4 linked regions of the Homo sapiens genome follow. The protein of the gene in region 1 purifies or fractionates together with the protein of each later gene. This does not show direct contact. Each region holds a gene or a part of one and is shown in the gene's direction. Other genes may lie near its edges.

Region 1 (3,705 bases):
ACTTTTCCCTCTAGATATAATAAAATCTCTTAAGTGAGAATATTGGTATAACAGACATGTTTCTACCTCATCCTTTTCATTTATTGAAATTTTCTGTGTAAATCATCCTTTTATGTAGAGGATCCTATATAGATGTCCCCTTTTTGTGCAGTTTTAATATGTTAAATACTCAATTTTAAACAGATTTTCCCAAAGGTATGGGCAGTATCACAGGAGTGGGTTTGGATATTGGCATTAGAAAAACTATTGTAAAATATGTTCATGTTTCACCTGCTCAAAAATATAACATTTCAGGAGATAATAAATCTAGAATTGATGAAGATATTAAAACACTGAGGCATTTAGATTTCAATTTCCAAAGTTCCCAGATTTTTAATATTTTAACTTTGTGAATAAGTTTCTAGGGATTCTCAGTGCATGAGATTCTGTAACCTTAACTTTGGAGCCCTGGGTTCTAGAGATGATTGATCAGTCATAAGCTGGCAGAGTTGTCCTGCTTTCCAAGGTTATAATACCTTCAAATACTCATTGCTACAAAAATGATGGCATTCTCATTTCAAGTTTAGATCTGATCATTCATAAAACAGCCTAAACTTAAGAGTTTCCACAGTCCATAAAGCATCAAAAGCCATAAAATAATTCTTTTTTCCCTATTAAAGAAAAAGCCAAAAATATTTCTGTATTTTAGAATAAACATTTCCAGTTCCATTTTTAAAATATTAACAACATGTAAATTTAAATGCTTTTGTAACTGATAAAATGTTCTTTTGCATATTTCCCTACCATCCTCCTGCCCTTCTTCCTCAATTTGCTTTACACCCCTAACATTAACATTCTGTGAACAAATTTTTAAGGGTTGTTATAATGTATTCTATTTGTATCCTACAGTAATTTATTTGCATTTTAAAAGGAGTTTGAATACAGTGTGGCAATTTTGACAACCAGCAAGCTCATCAAAGTAAGATTCTACCTGTAATCTTATGATACACCAAATGCCTGCTCTATTCTGCCTAACACAGACAAGGATCCATCTTTACAGATGGAAAGAATAGCTGACATCTAGTAGCACTTACTCTTTGAGTTCCCTGAACTCTATTTCTAGTGTATGAATCACTCATAACCCACTTAAATTCAGATTGCTCACCAAAGCGATTAGGAAAAAGGTTTTTCCTACTGGGTACAAAGCATAAGGTATTTCACTCTTGTAGTTGTTGTGAATAACCTAGTTTCTGTACATAAGCTGGCTGGTCAGTGATTTATATCTAGGATAATGAAGTATGTGTGACTGCAGCAACATATTTAAACAAATGATGCACAATGTTGTACAGGAATATTACCTGTATTAAATAGGAGTAAAACATTTTCATTCATAGGCTGTCTAAATATCAATGGTTAAATTACTGAGTTTTGCTTTATTTTTACTCCAGAAGTATTTGTTGAGTTCCTACTACATGCGAGGCTCTTGACTGAGATAACTAATAAGATCCTTATAAGATTTTTCTATTCCAGAGTTTGGTTGTTTAGCTTTGAATTACCCATTCTTTAATACCTAACTTGACTTCTAGTAGTTCTTTACTTATTAGACTCTTCTTCTAAGGATAAACAGAAAAAGACTGTGTCCTAGATTTTACTTTTGAATAGGCAGGTGACAGGAAGCTGAAACCAGTGGCTTCAATGAGATTTAGGTTTCTTGTGGTTTTGAATTTTCTATATGACATTTCTGTTATCATTGCCATTTGACTAAGGAACTATGTTTACTGGTTTTGTAATAGTAGCATCTATTCTTTTGGAATCTGGACTTTGAACAATTCGTTTCACAGAGTCATTGAACAGCCAGTTCCTTCTCTCTTACTTAGAATTTTTCCAGGGAATTTTTCACATGGCAGGATAATGGAAGAAAAGCCATTTGGGTAACTCTTCTGTTACATTTGTATCCCTCCCCCCTTGGATCCCTACAGATAAATTCTTACCTTCTCTTCCTGCTAATTGACCAGCAGCACCCTGGATTGCTATCATCCCTTTGTCCAAAGAAATGGTGTAGCTGTATTCAAAGACCTATAAAATGTTATGTGCTATCTATTGCTACCTATAAAAAATACCTTTTTTTCTTTTTAAAATCAGGTTGTTTTAGAATAAATAAAGGAAAAGTCAATTAATGGAAAAATTTCAAGAACAGTTCACATAAAATTTTGGTCTATTTTAATTTTTTTTTTTACCTTTTCAAATCACATTTTAAAATAAGCAGTTGGAGAAAATGTAAAATGAAAAATATGTAAAGAATAGTTAGCATTAAACATCAGATCCAATTGTAAACTTACGTGAGATAATATGGATTTATATTTATTTTCTAGTAAAATAAAACTTATATGATTGCATAATTGATTATTGTATATGCAATACAAATTAAGTTCAAAAATGAAAGTTGAGCTTTTTTTGTCCTTTCAAATGTAGGGCCAGCATACAATTTTAAGAGCTATTTATTATAAAATTCATGGTGAATCACTATGAAAATTGATTTTTCCTTGAGCTTTTAATTACATTATCCATATTCCCTTACGAAGTTTTCCAAGTATAGAAGACCTACTTAATGGAGCAGTAATCAAATGCAAACTTAATTTAATGATCTCAAATAAAAGGTTCTACTTTTCTGGAAATAAGATTAAACCAGATATTAAAATTATGTATGATTATAAAAGTAAAGATTACCATTATTGTAATAATTGACCAATTTAGTACTTTCAAGTTATTTAGTTACATTTTCTCAGTTCTAGTTTGGTGTGGTAAAGCATTATTTGAAAAGGCAGTATAGGAAGAATACAGATAGTATTCTTCAGTACAGATAATACCGCTGTACAGTACAGATAATATTACTGCTATTACAGAATCAGCAAGTTGAATGCATGCTTCAGGGAATAGGGAAATGAATGCGGACTTTTTCTAACTGATTTAGATGGTCTGTCTGACCTCTCTAGAAAAATATGTGTGTATGTATATTTTGAAATATATAAGGAATGTTAAGTCTTTCTCTTCCCCTTTTTAGCCTTAGATTGTAAGCAAAAGAAATCAAGGTCAAGATCTGGAAGCAAGAAGAAAATGCTAACATTACCTCATGGTGCTGACGAGGTTTACATTCTCCGATGCAGGTATATGCCTATATTGCCAAATCTGATCAGTTTCTTCATACTTTGCTTTGAAACATATTAGCTATTTCATTTGGGATTTTTAATTTGTGGCAGAGTGCATTCTCAACAATCAAGTTATAAATGAACTTTTGGAGATAGGCTTAAAATCTTAATTCAGCTCACAATATCCGTACTTCAACAACTAATGAATCAAGTTTTTTACATTAGCCAATAGTAATGTAAATCTATTATACTGTGATTTATTAAAGTAGCTTGGCCAGGTGTGGTGGCTCATGCCTGTAATTCCAGCACTTTGGGTGGCCAAGATGGGTGGATCACTTGAGGCCAGGAGTTCAAGAGCAGCCTGGCCAACATGATGAAACCTCGTGTCTACTAAAAATACCAAAATTAGCCAGGCTTTGTAGCGGGTGCCTGTAATCCCAGCTACTTGGGAGGCTGAGGCAGGAGAATTGCTTGAGCCCAGGAGGCAGAGGTTGCAGTGGGCCGAGATCGTGCCACTGCACTCCAGCCTGAGCGACAGAGCAAGACTCTGTCTCAGAAAAAAGAAAAAAAAACTGGCTTT
Region 2 (4,089 bases), on another chromosome or scaffold:
GTCCAGGCTGGAATGCAATGGCGTGATCTCAGCTCACTGCAGCCTCCACTTCCCGGGTTCAAGTGATTCTCCTGCCTCAGCCTCCCGAGTAGCTGGAACTACAGGCGTGCGCCACCATGCCTGACTAATTTTGTATTTTTAGTAGAGACGGGGTTTTGCCATGTTGGCCAGGCTGGTCTCGAACTCCTGACCTCAGGTGACCCACCTCCCAAAGTGCTGGGATTACAGGCATGAGCCACCACGCCCAGCCAGTTTCCTTCTTATAACAGGGAGGGAAGAGCAACTCTTTTCCCTTGAGATTGAGAGTCAAGGCAGAGATGAGTTTGTATAAACAAATTTTACTAAAATAACCGTTATTTTCCATTAGTTCTCCCATTTTTTCTAGTCACTTTCCCATGGTTTATTGTCCCTGAAATTCCAAGTTCCCTTTTTTGGGGGGGTTAAAATAGTATAAAAGCCTCTACGTCTAACCACTTGTTTGAGTTTCACTTCTTTTCTGTGAACTCCTGTGCATGTCAATATTAATAAAAATTGTATGCTTCTTCTCTTGTGAATCTGTCTTTTCATAGTTTAATTCACAGGCCATGAGATACTGAACCAAAGGTGATAGAGGAATTGTTTTCCCTCTCTGACATAGACTACAAAAATGTCTTCAGTTTTCCATATGTCTTTGAAAATTGATGCAATATTTTTGCAAAACTATAAGAAAACTGGAAAATAAATGAGAACAATTAAGGCTAATGCATTAGTCATGATTTATTTCACTGTTGTATTATTCTTTTAGGCAGTCCTATTATTTTTTTAGCATAGTTGGGATTAATTGATGAACAATGGTGAAATAATACCTAGAATGATGGAGTTAGCAAAATATTTCAAGATGTAGGAAAAATAAAGCCACTAACATCCCATAATGTATTTTAGATTGATAAAAGGATTCTGTTATAGACCCACATAATAATTATAAGATATAATGAGTTTTAATCTATTTTAAAGTAGTAAGTAAATTTTCCCTTCTTTGTTTAAAGATCTCTAGGAAACAATGTGAATAATGTCAGTCTTTCTAAAAAGAACTGCTCAAGAAAGAAAGTAAAAAACTAGTTTCCTTTGGACTCTGATAGTATACTGGACTTTAATGGTTAATTTGGACAGTTAGAGTTCCACCCCTCTCCAATACACACATTAAACCTACCTGCCTCTTCTACTTCCATAATAGGTTTTTTTTTTTAGCCTGTTGTACTTTAATACATCTCTAATGAATACAGGCAGTACCTAGAAAGTTGTTCCTTGAGGTTTCTGTTCTAAAGTTTTTTTGTTGTTACCAGTTTTTTTTTCTTAAACCTTTCTTCCAAGCTTTACCTTCAGAGACCCTTCATAATAAAAAATTATTAATTGGAACCCTGGCACATCAGGCCAACGTTGTATTTAGGCTTTTTGCTTAAATGGATTACACCAAAAAATATTTCAGTCATTTTCATTGCAAACATTCCTGTTTTTCTGGTTTTATATAACAGGATGAAGACAAAGTAATTTTTGGGATGATGTATGCCTTGTTTCTTTGTGTTTGTAAACACAATGCCTTACACATAATTAATGTTCGATAAATACTTAGTTTTTTTTTTTAATCACCTGAATATTCCCCAACAGTTTAAAATTATTGCTTTACTTTTTGGATTGGTATGTAACTTACAAATTTTTGACCAGCTAGCATAGTAATTTAGCTTTCTTTTTTAAAAAGGGCTTTGACTTGTGTTTATCTAGTACAGTAGTTCTCTAAATGTGGTCTTGGGCTTGAGACTCTTTGAAGGATTCTACTAGGTCCTCCCTTTACCACATACTTTTCCTGTGAAGCTGTATTTTCTTCAACAGAAGAGTGTAGTGCAACAGGTTGAATGCAGAAGGTCGTAAGAGAATCCAGCTGTCTTTATTAAGACAATGAGGTATGCAAAAATGTAGCAAAAATGTAAAACAATACCACTCTTTAAATTTTTTGTTTTGAGAAATACACTTTTTTTGTAAAAATATATTAATATGTGCTGCTTTCATTATTATCATCTTTAAGTAAATGAATACATATTGAAAAAAATTTCTCAGGTTTGGGGTTTCTGGACTCCCAGGCAAAGATTCCATCCTTAAAGTTTAGTCAACCACACATCTTTTTTTGATCAGGTTTGGGATTTTTTTTTTTAACATTATTAACTGAATGCCTTTGAGTTGATACGCATTTTGACTAGGGCTAGTAACCAAAGCAAAGATGATCAGTCTATGAACTAATTTGCCCTTTGCTTCTAGGCTTCACTCCTGTGCGTTCCTTATTTTGTGGGTTACCTTTGGCAAATCTAAGAAGCTAAGCCTGGAGGGGCTTGAGAGAGGCCTGGGGGTTTTAGGTATAATCCTAATCTCTGTCGTATCTCTTGCTTTTTTTACTTGCTCTGCTTTTCCTATTCAAGGTTTAAGATTATCTGACTCTCAGCTATACAGGATTGCTGACTGCTGCTAGAAAGGCCTTCATAACCAAAATGCAACATGGAAATAGCTTTCTTACATTCCATGAGAAAAAAAATAGATCTGACAACGTTATTGAATAGAAAAAGGTAAATAAGAAAATTGGCACTACTTCAGTGACACTACATTGTAGTGTCTGTTCATTTGAGAAGTTATACACAACAGATGTCTTTCTATTCTTTGATTTCTTTTATTGTAGTGTTTTAGAGATTATAAAGTATGTTCACAGTTACCGTATTCCATCATCAGAACAAATACTTCTTTGCAAAAGGCGGTGTTATCATCCTTTACAGATGAGGAAATCAAGTCTTAGAAAAAGTTCATTTTATTCATTGGAATAACACTGGGTGCCAGATATTGTGTATTCATTTTATAAGATACGATGCCTTGGTTTTCCCTCACTTCACCGTCAGCCTTTTTATCTCAGAATTACATGTTCTCTTCTATTTGGGCTATACAATGCAGGTGAGCCTTACAGGCAGGCAGTGACAACAACTGTTAGAAGTGTTGCCTCCTTAGAGCATTTGACCTGTTCTGCACCTCACTGCACCTGGAAGCTTTTAACACTAGGATAACCTAACCGAGCTCTGCTTAGGTTGGAAAGTTATTAAACAATTTGGAATTGGTAAATGACAGAATGAAAGCATTATTTTAGTAAATTGTTAATTTGGGGGCTCTTTATTGAAGAGATGAAAGCAAAAATCTGGATGCTGAGAGACCAAGTACAGACAGTCCCCAGCTTAAGATGGTTTAACTTAAGTTTTTTTGACTTTATGATGGTGTGACAGCAATATACATTTAGTAGAAACTGTACTTCAAGTTTTGAATTTTGATCTTTTTCCGGGCTAGTGATATGTGGTATGATACCATATTGTGATACTAGGCAGCAACAGCAAGTTGCAGCTACCAGTCAGCCACATGATCATGAGGGTAAACAACTGATAACATACAGTATACTGTGTTGTCAGATGATTTTGCCCAACCACAGGCTAATGTAAAGGGTTCTGAGCACGTTTAAGGTAAGTTAGACTAAGCTGTGATGTTCGGTAGGTTAGGTGTATTGAATGCATTTTCAACTTACGATATTTTCAGCTAATGATGGGTTTAATCATTACCCCATCACAAGCTGAAGAGCAACTATATAAAGTGAATCTTATAAAGTAAATCTATTTCACTTTAGGTGTGAGGTTCTATGGGCGTGGTCAAGTATTGAGTGGATGGAGAGGCAAGGATGGTGTGGGAAATATTTTGAAGGAAGTCTATAGGGTTGGGGAATTGACTAGATATAATTAAAAGAGGGAGACATTGAAAAAAACCTCCAGGGATTCAAGATCAGAAGGATGGCAGTTTAGTAGAAAAAGGGAAATGCAAAAGTAAAACTAACTTTTATAATTTAAGGTAAGATTCATATAATTTCACCATTTAAAAATATACGGTTCACTGGCATTTAGTACATTCATAGTGTTGTACAACTGTCAACACTAATTCCATAATATTTTCAGCTCCTCAAAAGGAAACCTGTTACCCATTATTCTGAATATTAGATATAAATAGAATCAAACTGTGTGACTGACTTCTTTCACTTTC
Region 3 (4,089 bases), about 51 Mb from region 1:
TTGATTTAGCAGCAGTTTAACTGTAGTTATAATTATTGAATAAAATAGCTTACCGCATAGAAATAATAGCTATGATTTTTAGAGTGCCTGCTATGTGTTGGGCACTGTATTTGTGCTTTCATATCTCATGTAATCCATGAAACAGGTGAGAGATTACACATACCCAAGACCATGTAGTTACAATTGTGGAGGCAGAATTTGAGCCCAGGTGAGGTGACGTTAAAATGTTTTTGATTGGAGAGTGATGACCCTTCAGTTGCTAAGTGCATGGTTTAATTAAACATCCGTAATATACAAGCCCTTGTGCTTAGTGCTGTAGGGAATACAAAGGCTAACAAGACATGATATTTGTTCACAAATTGCTGACAGTGTAATAAAGGAGATATCAGAGACAATAGTAAGTACTATTAAACATTTACTCCGTGTTTGGCCTTGTGGTGAGTCTTATCTGCATTTCTAGTATTTCTTTAATTTGTTCATCCATGTGAGATGGGTATAACCTTTTTACAGATGAAGAAACTTGAGTCTCAGAGAGGTCAGTTAATTTGTCCAAGGGTCTCACAGCTGTGTGTCAGAATCAGGTTTCAACATCAGATCAGTGATTCTAAAACCTGAAATGTTAACGTTTGTACACTATAATCCCTTATCACTGTTCTTCGAGAAAACTAAATGTGGGGAAAGAAGTAAAATGCTGTGGGAATTTGCAAGGCGATAGGTTGTGTAGGTAATATGCCTGTTATCAGGTATGTTGCTTCCTGTTGGATTTGCAGAATTGCTTACAACCTCATATGGCAGGTAAATAGAGCAGAATCTGATGTTAGGCAGGCAGAATAGGATATAGGGGAGACGTGACAGGAAATAATAGGCATGATTTAGATTGGAGATAATTAGAAAAGAATTACTAGGACATAATAACTAAGTTGATTTCCTTGAGGAAAGGAAGTATCAAGGAAAGATAATTCCAAAATTTTATTGTTGTATAATTGAGAGAATATCATTGCTGAAAATAGAAGTAGGGAATAAGGAGCTATGTGAGTGAAGGGTATGACCGTGAGTTCATCTTGTGGAATTTAGTAACTGTGGGACTAAAATGGAAAAGTCCAAGTGATTGTGACCTGTTTTCCCTCCATGCTTTTTGACCTTGACTACATATTAGAGTATCTATGGAATTTAAAACCAAAAAACATACATCCCAAGGTCCAGACTCCACTTGCTAAATCATAATCTCCAGAGTTGGAGCTCTGGAATCCAGAACTTTTTGAAGTGCCTTAGGAAATGGGCACTTACATATTGCTGATGGGAATATAAATTGGTACAATTTTTGGAGAGCAGTTTGGCAGTATGAGTCAGTATTACAAATGAACAGAGCCTTTAATTTAGCAATTCCGCATCTAGGAATTTGTTGTGTAGATTTATTCACATGTTTCAGATTACCTGTATATAGGGTTGTAAGTTGCAGCATTATTGATGATTGACAGAGATTGGAAACAGCCTGCAAGTGTATCAGTAGGGGATTGGTTAAATAAATTATAGCACATCCATACCACATAATGCTATTCAGTTGTTAAAAATAAGAAGATAGCTCTAACTGCACAGATGATAGAATAACCTGTATCATATATTAAGTGGCAAAAGAAAATGTCTTCCATACTCATAGAATATTTCTGGAAGGATAAACAAGAAATTGGAAACTTGTTGTTTCTCAGGGTGGGAAACCAGAGCACTGGGGTCAGGGTAGGAGGGAGAAAAACTTTAACTGTATAGCTTTTTCTGTCCTTTTGAAATCTGTGATTATATATATATATATGTTTTTCTTTATATTATTTTAAAGGATAATGTTACGATTGATTCTCATATGTAGTTAAAATTGGGCCAGTGGTTTATCCTTAGTATAAACCATTGCTACTCTACACACACACACACACACACACACACACACACACACACACACACACACACACACACACACACACACACACACTGGTTTATCCTTAGTATAAACCATTGCTACTCTACACACACACACCCCAGTGGTTTATCCTTAGTATAAACCATTGCTACTCTACACACACAAACACACACACCCCCCCCACACCTCACACACACACACACCCCCCCCCCCCCCCCCGCAACCTGGGAGCTTGTGAGAAAAGCAAAATTTCAGGTCCCAGACCTAATAAATCAGAATCTGCATTTTAATAAGCTCCCTAGGTGATCTAGGCACTTTCAAGTCTGAGAGATACTGTTTTAGATTAACCACCTAAAGCAGTTTGTTTACTCACCACTTGGCTTGACATGCAATATTCTCACCTCTATTCTTTAAGTAATACTATGTAGTGATGTCACATACTTGTTGGATATTTACTATTCAAAAATTGAGGGCTCGGCCGGGTGCGGTGGCTCATGCCTGTAATCCCAGCACTTTGGGAGGCCAAGGCGGGTGGATCATGAGGTCAGGAGATCGAGACCATCCTGGCTAACAACGGTGAAACCCCGTCTCTACTAAAAATACAATAAATTAGCCGGGCATGGTGGCGGGCACCTGTAGTCCCAGCTACTCGGGAGGCTGAGGCAGGAGAATGGCGTGAACCCGGGAGGCGGAGCTTGCAGTGAGCCAAGATCGCGCCACGGCACTCCAGCCTGGGTGACAGAGCAAGACTTCATCTCAAAAAAAAAAAAAAAAAAAAAATTTGAGGGCTCATCCAGAGCACTGTACAGTCAATGCCAAGTGCCTAATATTCAGTACAGCTCAGAAGTACTGAGCTTCAGTACTTCTGAAGCTTTCAGAGTAGCATTTTCCAAAGTGTGTACTGAACCAGGAACACATGTTTTACAGGTTACTAATATGTATAAAAGGGTTCTCTGGTCAAATCAGTTTAGGAAACATTGGGTTTTTAAATAAAAGTGAACAGTTTTCTTTATTGCAGGACTGTTCAGAGATTTGACCAAGGAATCCTTTTTTTTTCTAGGACTATCTCTCAGGTCTTTTGGTCGGTGGAACACACTTTGAGAAATGCCTGGTTTAGAGGAAAGAGCACCACTGGCTTTGGAATCCTTGGCAAGTTACCTAACTTCTGTGAATATTAATTTTCCTAACCTTAGACTGGGGATAATAATACTTGCCTTGGTGGTGGTGTGAAGAATAAATGAGAGGTATATAAAAATATGCAGCTTAAAACTTGATGTCTCGTAAGCATTCAGTTGATAGTTGTTAATATTACATAGGTTACTTGCTTCATTTCTTGCATTTATGCTTATAGTTCATTTCACTATTTCTTAATTTTCCTCTCATCTCTATTAGATGAATATTGAGACCAGAGTAAACTTCTCATTTATATAAACTAAATTTTTATTAACTAAAAATCAAATAAAAAGATCTCAAACTTTCATCTTAGCAAGTCTGACATGTTATGTGGTATGTTGTCAAACTGTTTTATTTTTCATTTTTTCTAGTCAATAAATTGATTGCACAAGAAGGACCTTCCTTTCTGCAAATGCGAATAAAACATTTGTTGAAATCTAACTGCATCCCCCAGGCTACTGCTTTATCAAAACTATGTGCAGAATCTAAAGAAATTTCAAATGTGTCATCTTTTCAGCAAGCCTATATCACATGTTTATGTTCTATGCTCCCTAATGAAGATGCTATTAAGGAGGTGAGTAAATAATTGTTGTCATTCAAACTTGGTATTAATTTAATAGATTTATATATATATTGCATGGTTTATTTTTTCCCTTTAGAATGAAAACCAAGATTCATTTTTTTCAGGCTACCAAAATGTATGATTTTAATTGTATATTTAACTGCTCGACAGATAGAATGTAATATTTTAGAGTGAATTTGAAAAGTAGATAACTAAAGAATATACAGAGGCATGTTTACTTATTTGGGTGATGATTTGCTGTGAAATCTTTAAATGTGAAAGTTGTTTTTTCTTTTTAAAGTAATGACGTCTCCATGTTTGGGGAATGCAGAAGTTGTTAATCATGGCATCAAGGGATAAACTAAAGAAAATGGCACTTAATTTTAGCTTAAGTTACTTTATATATTTAATTTTGTAAGCAGAAAAGTATAGGACTCTAGATTCC
Region 4 (4,089 bases), on another chromosome or scaffold:
AGTGAGCCGAGATCACGCCACTGCACTCCAGCCTGGGCAACAGAGCGAGACTCCGTCTCAAAAAAAAAAAAAAAAAAAAGGCTGACCCAGGATTGGATCAGAGAGACAGGAATTGTTGGGAAGAGTCTCACAGAGGAGGGCACATTTAAAGGAGTCTTGAGGCCGGGCAGATCACATGAGGTCAAAAGTTTGAGACCAGCCTGACTAACATGGTGAAACCTCGTCTCTACTAAATACAAAAAATTAGCCGGGTGTAGTGGCACACGCCTATAATTCCAGCTACTTGGGAAGCTGAGGCAGGAGAATTGCTTGAACCCGGGAGGCAGAGGTTGCAGTGAGCCCAGATCATGCCATTGCACTCCAGCCTGGGCAGCAAGAGCAAAGCTCCGTCTCAAAAAAAAAAAAAAAAAAAAGGCCAGGCACGGTGGCTCACACCTGTAATCCCAGCACTTTGGGAGGCCGAGGCGGGTAGATCACCTCAGGTCAGGAGTTCGAGACCAGCCTGACCAACATGATGAAACCCCCATCTCTACTAAAAATACAAAAATTATCTGGGTGTGGTGGCGGGCACCTGTAATCCCAGCTACTCAGAAGGCTGAGGCAGGAGAATCACATGAACCTAGGAGGTGGAGGTTGCAGTGAGCCGAAATCATACCATTGCATTCCAGCCTGGGTGACAGAGCGAGACACCATCTCAAAAAAAAAAAAAAAAAGGAGTCTTGAAGAATGAGTTGGAATTTTTAAGAGAGGCGAGAGGGCAAAGAACATTCCAGGCCAATGAAAATACCTTGAGTAAAAAGACAAAGGCATGAAGGTCCACTGTATGTTTAAAGAACTTTTATGATGAGGAGACCAGCATGATGTGCTTGTGCTGGGGAAGCAGGGGGACGTCAGGCTGCCCCAGGTGTACAGGATCTTGAGGGCTGACCTTTATCTTCTAGGTAAGGGGCTTCTACTGAAAGTTTCCATGTGGGAAATGAATGTTCATTTTTTCCTTTGGAAGGAATTCTGGCAGTGGTGTGGAGGATGAATTCATTCACTACCAGCCTTCTGTTGGGAAGGGTGGGGTGAGGCGGGGTGTGTGTGGGTGCACAGGGCAAGAGCAGGCTGAGATGGGAGGCAAAAGACCTGTTGGAAGTCTTTTAGAGAAGGTCCAAAAGTAGGACAGGCGGACGGAGATGGAGAGGCGGGGGCTAATTTGAGAAACATTTTGGTGGTTCTATACTGTTGTCATTAAAAGCATAGATTATAGAGTCAGACAGTCCTAGATTTTAAGCCCTGCTTTGCCACTTACTGCTTGTATGAATTTGAATATTACATAACCTCCTCTTTGAGCCTTAGTTTTCTTGTTTATAAAATGGGGATGATAACAGCGCCTTACCTTCCAGGTGGTTTGGGGAAGTGAGATAATTTATGTAAAGCCCTTAGCATGGAGCCTAATACATAGTAAGCATGCAGTAAATGGTAGTTCCCATCTACCAGACCTAGGGATTAATAATGTATTAATTATTTGATTGGGGGTGGGAGTAAGACAGTTAAGAGTCACTTGTGATGGTAAGGGTGATTGGATATATAGAGATACATTGAATGAGTCAAATGAAGCAATGTTGAGTTTTATAAAGACAGTAAAGTTAATCTTAGACTAAACATAGATGGTCCTCCATTCTACATCTGGAGTTCGCTTGTGAGCAGAGCATTGCTCTCTTTGGAGATGGGAACCCATGGGCCGCACAGCACTGCCCTCTAGTGGCTAATAAGCAGAACAGCCAGAAGGTGGCCCCCAGCACATGAGCCCACACTTTCATGTTCTCTGCCCTCTTTCCTTCCTCCACCAAAATAAAGCAGATGTGGGTGGATCGGCCCACAGGTGGCTGGCTGAAGAGTTGGTAAATCTGGTCAAACATTTACATTCAAATCTATCATCCGTGCTTACTGAGAGGAGAAATTGCCTAGATAAGGAGTAGCTAATCATACACGTTTCCTGTTTGTGTTCACTCTTTCCCCATCTCTCCGCCTGGCTCAGCCCTCTGGTAGATTACCTAGAAATGTGTATGGGCAGCAGCAGCTCTCCATGGTTAATGGACAGCGTAGGATGAAGACACCATGTTAAGGGTGTTTCCGTTGTGCCAATTAGTGTGGGAGTTGGAAAATTTGTCAAATTTGCAATGTCAGGTTTCTTCCTATTCTTTGGTTCACAGGGTTACCCCTCTTTGTCCAGCGCACAGTGGCCCGAACCATCGTTTTACAAGAGATTATTGGCAAGGGTCGGTTTGGGGAAGTATGGCGGGGCCGCTGGAGGGGTGGTGATGTGGCTGTGAAAATATTCTCTTCTCGTGAAGAACGGTCTTGGTTCAGGGAAGCAGAGATATACCAGACGGTCATGCTGCGCCATGAAAACATCCTTGGATTTATTGCTGCTGACAATAAAGGTAAGGGCTGGGCTTGGATACAGCATTCCCAGATAGAGGATGCTAGAGAAAGTGCATAGCTATGGGGTGCACAGCTCTGTTTGCCTTCATCATTGTAACCCGTAGAAAGAAAACTTGAGTAAGGTCAAGGTTTCCATGCTTTCCTTAAAGTGTGGAGCCTTTTATTCCATGAAAAGGTTATACAAAAATCCAGGTTATCAAGCAAATAAACAAGCAGTTCTTACTCAGATAAACAAGATACACCCCCTCACCCTACCTGCTCAATTTCTCTTTCTCCACTCCCCCAAACCCACCTCCATTGTAGTTCCTGCAGGGGGTCCCGTAAGCTTATTTTGAAAATCACTAGGATGGGCTGGGCGCGGTGGCTCACGCATGTAATGCCAGCACTTTGGGAGGCCGAGGCAGGCAGATCACTTGAGGTCAGGAGTTTGTGACCAGCCTGGCCAACATGGCAAAACCCCATCTCTACTAAAAATACAAAAATGAGCTGGCCACGGTGACACCTACCTGTAATCCCAGCTATTCAGGAGGCTGAGGCAGGAGAATTGCTTGAACCCAGGAGGCGGAGGTTGCAGTGAGCTGGAGGTTGCAGTGAGCTGAGGTCGCGCCACTGCACTCCAGCCTGGGCGACAGAGCGAGACTCCGTCTCAAAAAAAAAAAAAGAAAAAAAAAATCCCTAGGATGAGGAATTGCGGCCTCAACCCTGGCAAGGAGGATAACGACAGAAAAGCCTGTAGTCCACGAAGTGTCGCCTTCGGACTCTGCTCTTGGTCAGTCCTGTCCCTGAGGATTCTTTCCTTCTTCCTCTCCCTTTTATTGCTTTAGTTTTTGAATCTCTTATGTGCCAGGCACCTCCCTATGTTTGAGGACCTCATTGACTAGCAAAGGATGACGAGTAAGGGTGATTAGAGGAGGTAAACACGAGTTGTTCTGTTGAGCACAAATTGGGGCTGACTCGCACCTGAGCCCAGTTGAGACAAAGGTGGCAAGAACTGGTCAGGAAGAAAAATCTTCCTTGCAGGGAAGAGCACTGCAGACATGTGCAAAGGTGAGGTTTGGGGCCCAGCAAGTAACTTGGATGGCTGTGGGTGGAGAGGGAGGCAGAGGCCAGATTATGAGGGGCCTTTTTGAGAGGATTGTATTCCATTCTGAAGATAGTGGGTAGTAATTAAAATTTCATTCATTAATTCTATAACATTTATTGACTGCTGTGGGCCAGACCTCTGCTGGCTGCTTGGACCATCACACATAAGAGCAAGACACAGTCCCTCCCCTCACAGAGCTCCCAGGAAGAAGGGGACAGACACGTGGACAGGTAGTGGCACCCGGAGCACAGAGAGGATGCTGTGAGTGGCTGGTTCACATTGTGGAAGGGTCTCTCTAGCAGTTGTGACATGACTTGCTCCTGTGGCATGGTGCAATTTAGAAGTTAGTGTCTACAAAGCCTACAGAAGATGCTATTTGTTTTTCATTCCTGAAACAACAGCAGACTGCTCATTCCTCACATTGCCATGGGAAGTTGTAATGGTCTCTGCTGCCCCCAAGCTGAGGAGCCTTAGACTCCAATACAAGGGAGGAAGGGGAAGAGCAAGATTTTTATTCCCACTGAGTAAGCTATTCCTTTTTAAAACTATCACCTTTTGATAAAATTTAAATCTTA

Evidence for each region. The genes of interacting proteins can lie anywhere in the genome.
Region 2: the proteins of ZNF644 (region 1) and ZNF280D purify together in Homo sapiens (affinity purification with mass spectrometry, with the first as the bait; one large-scale study listed by BioGRID). This does not show direct contact.
Region 3: the proteins of ZNF644 (region 1) and RLF purify together in Homo sapiens (affinity purification with mass spectrometry, with the first as the bait; one large-scale study listed by BioGRID). This does not show direct contact.
Region 4: the proteins of ZNF644 (region 1) and ACVR1B purify together in Homo sapiens (affinity purification with mass spectrometry; one large-scale study listed by BioGRID and IntAct). This does not show direct contact.

Annotation. Positions count from the first base shown.
Region 1 is NC_000001.11:90,917,490-90,921,194, reverse strand, and holds part of ZNF644 (zinc finger protein 644), read left to right. Parts: intron 1-3,040; coding exon 3,041-3,143; intron 3,144-3,705.
Region 2 is NC_000015.10:56,723,349-56,727,437, reverse strand, and holds part of ZNF280D (zinc finger protein 280D), read left to right. Parts: intron 1-4,089. UniProt on the Homo sapiens protein: May function as a transcription factor.
Region 3 is NC_000001.11:40,198,959-40,203,047, forward strand, and holds part of RLF (zinc finger protein Rlf), read left to right. Parts: intron 1-2,969; exon of another isoform or gene 2,970-3,058; intron 3,059-3,453; coding exon 3,454-3,656; intron 3,657-4,089. UniProt on the Homo sapiens protein: May be involved in transcriptional regulation.
Region 4 is NC_000012.12:51,978,771-51,982,859, forward strand, and holds part of ACVR1B (activin receptor type-1B isoform a precursor), read left to right. Parts: intron 1-2,198; coding exon 2,199-2,429; intron 2,430-3,915; coding exon of another isoform or gene 3,916-4,038; intron 4,039-4,089. UniProt on the Homo sapiens protein: Transmembrane serine/threonine kinase activin type-1 receptor forming an activin receptor complex with activin receptor type-2 (ACVR2A or ACVR2B).